Regions from separate parts of the Homo sapiens genome. Here region 2 is linked to region 1. The links come from fine-mapping of genetic effects on gene expression. Tissue or cell type: whole blood. Region 1 holds a variant in brackets; the other region holds the start of a gene. All regions are shown on one strand. Distances are between the middles of the regions.

The links. PIP is the estimated chance that this variant, and not a neighbour inherited with it, causes the effect.
Region 2: it holds the start of LAMA2, and the variant in region 1 is fine-mapped to the expression of LAMA2 in whole blood (TOPMed, PIP above 0.99). The same link has a PIP of 0.9 or more in blood mononuclear cells.

The regions. Positions count from the first base shown.
Region 1 is chr6:129,280,254-129,282,753 of GRCh38, forward strand. All of the region lies in intron 18 of LAMA2 (laminin subunit alpha 2), which reads left to right. Among named protein-coding and RNA genes, the nearest start is that of LAMA2, 400 kb to the left of the region's middle. The variant A/G (reference allele first, on the strand shown) is at 1,000.
Region 2 is chr6:128,881,631-128,884,261 of GRCh38, forward strand. It overlaps LAMA2 (laminin subunit alpha 2), which reads left to right and starts at 1,508. Exons shown (of 65, transcript NM_000426.4): 1 at 1,508-1,727. The coding sequence starts at 1,616.

The DNA of each region.
Region 1 (2,500 bases):
TCAATGAGGTGAAATAAAGTTTCTCAACGCACTTGTCAAACAAATGCATTATATTTTTGTAATTTATTTATTTTTCAGAAATTGCTTCATAAATCTTCATTCACTCAGAGAATATCTGATTAATGTTTTAATCTTAAAGGTTAAGTATTAACCTACAATCTTTGTAGAAAGCATTGCTCAAGTGGAAAGTCATGCACTTTAAGATTTATCTTACTGTCTGTGTAGGCACCATTTATTTTTCATAATTAGCTTTTTGTCCTTAAAATGTAGCTTAAATGCATAGTTCATAGTTCAGCAAGTGGTTCATAATTTACTTTAAATATACTTGAAAATAGAAACAAAATGTAATTTATTATCATGATTTATATCCTCTTCTAATTGCTCCTAAACCAGTATTTTAATTCCTGTTGATTTTACTGGGTTGCTTTGCAGCAGAAACAAGAGTATTATTTTATGTAATTTGTGTGATTATATTTCCTTCTGAAATGTTTTTGAAGAAATAATTCTTCTATATATTCAGCCTCAGCATAAAAGTGATACAAACTTCCCCCTTGACATCATTGCCAAAAACAAAAACCTCCCTCTGGTTTCAGCACTGGAAATAGTCCCTGCTGCCACCCTTCCTGGGAGGGAGGGGTGCAAAGGAAGTGACCTACTTTCACTCATCATCACTGAGGCTAACCCTGAAGAGGGCTGTTTCTGCCCGTCTTTTCCTGTCATCTTGGCAGCTATCACCCCTGTTTCAACCAGGATGCATAAAATTAATGAAGCAGGAGCCTATCACCCAGAGAGAATTTAGCTAGCAACTAGCAGTCTGTGGACAAAGTGCCAATGACAGTTCCTAGCAGCAACAAGTACTATTTGTGAGTATGGAAGCATCTGTAAATTAGGAATGAAAGAAAAAAAAATGAAACAAGCAGCATTTATTTGCAATCAAGAAACTAGATATCTTTAATTGTGTGTGTGTGTCTGTGTGTGTGTTTAAAGAAAGGCATGTGC[A/G]TATTACTTACTATAATAGGAGAACATATCATTGCCAAGACAGATTTACATCAAGTGCCTAAACCCCCCAGTTCACTACAGGCAACCTTTTTTTAGCAACTGGAAAATGACAGCTGCTCTGTCATACAAGGCTATTAAATCCACTTATCTAGGTGAGCATAATCTCTGATGTACTTATATTGCTTTGCTTTATGTACTATACTCCCTATACATGTTAGACAATAGTTTCTGAACCATCTATAATTTAAAACCCTACATTTTATTTAACAAACATCTGTTTAGCAACTACCATGTGCTGGGTACAAGGCTAGACATTGGATATAAATAGATGCATTTTCCCATCCTTGCCCTCAGCACCTCACATCTTTCTTTAATGCAAGTGAGGATGGTTGCTTGTATTCTTGGGAGAATTCCATTTGAATAGTAAAAATCACCAAGGAGAGAAATACCTGACAGAAAGTATGATTTCCTGTCTAAAATCTGTATTAATCTGATTCAGAAGATGGCAACATGCATATGCAGTGTAATGAATGGCATATTTTATCTCCAGCTCAAGTTTTTCCACAGTTGATACCATATTTTTCTAGCCAGAATTTAGATTAGGGTTTTCCAGGAATATTTAAGATTTATAATTTCATTGTATTTATGTAAGCCAAAAGAACACCTTAGATAGATCTAAAATATGAGGGAAACATTTTTTGTTTGAGATGTGCCTGTTGAAGTAGAAGAGAGGGAAGATAAGGGTCAGGGTAAGGAGGAGATACTGGTTGCATTAAAAATCTTGTAATCAAAACCATTCTGTAAGTGATTTGTGTGATCAGCTTATGCACATCATCTAAATAAGACCAGAATTTAAAAACTAAATCAACATTTCCCAAATTGTAGATGTTCCTGGAATAAAGAATTCTGTGATCACATGAGTTTGGGAAGCATCCATTTGCATGTTAAAAGTTCTGGCATGTCCTACAGTGTGTAATTAAGAAATCTGTTCAATTTGTTTAGCTCAGCATTTCCTAAACTTATGTGGCCATAAACCCTCTGCTTTAACTATATAGCAAGAATATATCTCAGACTACAGCTCAGGTGGGACAAGAGTTATAACTTTATAGTCTTTATCACAATTTAATTTCTATTTTGAGACCCCTTTCTCTATATGTGGGAACTGTGAGGTCTTAGAAACATAATCTGAGCCCATTTCAAGTTGTTTTCTTCTCCTCTCTCCCAGCTAGAATCAAAGTTCTATTAAGCTTACCTAGTACCAAAGGCCTTATATGCAAGGGTAGAGGGGAGGGTATAATGTCTGTGTGTATATGTTGAGCAAGGGGACATGTGATAGGGCCAGCCAGTACTGAGTATTTCACCCAAGCATGTTTCTGCTGACCTATCCCTTTTTCTCCGTCCTCCTAATTACCTTTCCTTTCAGGTCTAGAAAGTCTCTCAACTACTTTCATTCCATTCTTAGAGGCACAGGAATCATTCAGCTTCTTTCATTCCATGCTAA
Region 2 (2,631 bases), 400 kb before region 1:
ATTACAAAGCTTTCTGGTATAATATTAACAGAACTAAAAGACATGAATAATATTAAAGAATGGGCTTTGGCTAGTGATTTTCAATCAATTCTCTTCAAAGCAATACTCTCTTAATTTTACTGAAAGAAAATTCAACTTTAATATAATATTTAGATAAATCAATACATCTTAACTATAAAAAAGAAAACTATCTATATAAGACAATATGTATTTCAACATATAAATGCTTGGGTAAAACTTCCTTAGGAGGCAAAATAAAATAAAAGTTTGCACCTATTCTTAGATGACCCCAGTGTAATCGATGGGATGTTGATATTGTGCTGGTGACTCAAGTACCATGGGCAAGGTTGTTATCAGTGATGTGCTTCTCTGAAAGTACATCTTTACACCCATTGACAAATGGGTGTAAAATCCAAAAACACAAAGTAAATTATCTTCTCAATGTATATAGTAGATGCATCCTAGAAAAAAACAAACAAACAAACAAAAAACACACACAAAAATTTGATGTGGAAACAAACTTAAATTAGGTTTCAAATATAAGGCAAGGTTTTGTTGTTTTGTTTGTTTGTTTACTCACTACATAAATGACCAGTGGCCCATTCAGAAGTCTAAGGACAAAATATGTTGTAGGACTGTCCTGACCACTGAGGGACAGCTCACACCCTGACCCAACAGTACACTAATGCCTGCAGTACCCACCGTTCCCGGAGTAAACCAAAAGACATCCTGCGACTCACAAAATCCATTATGGAGTTGTTTTAAACCTTATGAGAACCACTGACCTAGGCCATAAAAAACAAATGAAAAAACAACAAAAACTAGGAATGGCAGTAGTTCTGTTGAGTTAAAGAGGAGAAAGAGGAGAAACCAGGACTGGAAGAGATGAAATTGTGAGTCTGGAAGGAAACTATTGCAAAGGCCTTTATTACCTTTAAGTAAATGTCTCCTAACTGAACTGAAAGCCTTCATTCTAACCATTAGTTTGGTCAGGAACATTTCAGGGACGCCAGGGTGGCTGTTTTATTTTGCACTTCCTTTACTGCCCTCCCAGCAGCCTACCTAGCAGTAAGTTCCCCAGCCTGCAGTGTCCCCAGAGGGCACCTTCCCTCGGCTAGTAACTTCTCAGACACTCTGGCCTTGGGGATGTCTTGGATCTTCTAGGTACACAGTGGCTGCACACAGTTTTGCCAGGCCTTTCTCAAGAGGTAAAAGTTCCTAGCTGTTTGCATTTCCCAGAAATAATGTTTTCCATGTGTAGGGATTTTACAGATTTCAAAGTGCTTTCATGTCAATTACTTTCTTTAATTTAAAAGAAGTTCAGATACCAGGTCAAGCTAGGAATGATCCGGTCTCAGAGGGAAGGAGCGCTCTAGGAAAGGAGGATCCTTTAATAGAGGGCCGTCCTGGGGCCGCGTGCCCATGGAAGGCGAGAGTGGAGGAGTGTCCTCTTTCTCCCCCACCCTCAGGCGGCGGCCCGGCCAAAGCCAGAGGGGGCTGTCTCCTCCTCTTCCCCAGCAGCTGCTGCTCGCTCAGCTCACAAGCCAAGGCCAGGGGACAGGGCGGCAGCGACTCCTCTGGCTCCCGAGAAGTGGATCCGGTCGCGGCCACTACGATGCCGGGAGCCGCCGGGGTCCTCCTCCTTCTGCTGCTCTCCGGAGGCCTCGGGGGCGTACAGGCGCAGCGGCCGCAGCAGCAGCGGCAGTCACAGGCACATCAGCAAAGAGGTACAGTCGAGGCATGGGCTTGGGTTGCATCCTTTGCCGGGACCGAGATTCCTCACTTCTTCCACTCTTCCGAGAGTTGCTGTCTGTGGACTGCCGTCTTGCTTCGCCTTCAGAGAGTGCGCTCTGGGGCAAGAGGAACTTGAAGCAAGTTCAAGTTCAATGCCATGAGAGCGTAGTGTAGGGGGAATTACCTAAGTCCTGCAAAAGGAACGGGGAGTGCTTTTCATTGTTCTTTAGTTTCGAAGAGGTCTTGCTATCACGATACATCCCGTAAATTGATTTCTGAAATCTTTCCAAGAGGAAAACTTTTTCCAATTGGAAAAAAAAGAATTTCTTCAAATCAGAGCCCATCCTGCAGAGAAAGGCTTCCCAAGCTGTGTGGTTCATCCTGGGACTTTATGGAGGGTAGCTGATGCATCAAAAAAAAATTATATATATATATATACACACACACACACACACACACACACACACACACATATATATATATATAAAGTTTTACAGAACTTTGTTTTCAACTTTTAAAACAGGATTTCTAAAGAAGTTATGTGGTTTTTTTTCTTTCATGGCAATGGCGCCTCCAGCCTCACCTTTTTCAAACCCACATCTTATCTTCATATCCTATTTTATTGTAGTGAAATCGTGAAATTTCTCCTTTTGCTTAAATACAGAGGAGACTTCTATGTCATGTGTACTTTAAGGCCACAGTGACTAGATATACACTTTGGAGGACTTTGGAAGATGGCTGTATTTAATGTAACTTAAATAACTTATTCTCCTCAGAGCCTCTTAGTGTTTATGTATATATAGCTCTCATTTCTGAAACTTTGGGGAGTCTTTGAAGAGTTATTTTATTATCATGAATTTTACAGGAAGCACATGTGCAGCATTGTAAGACATACTT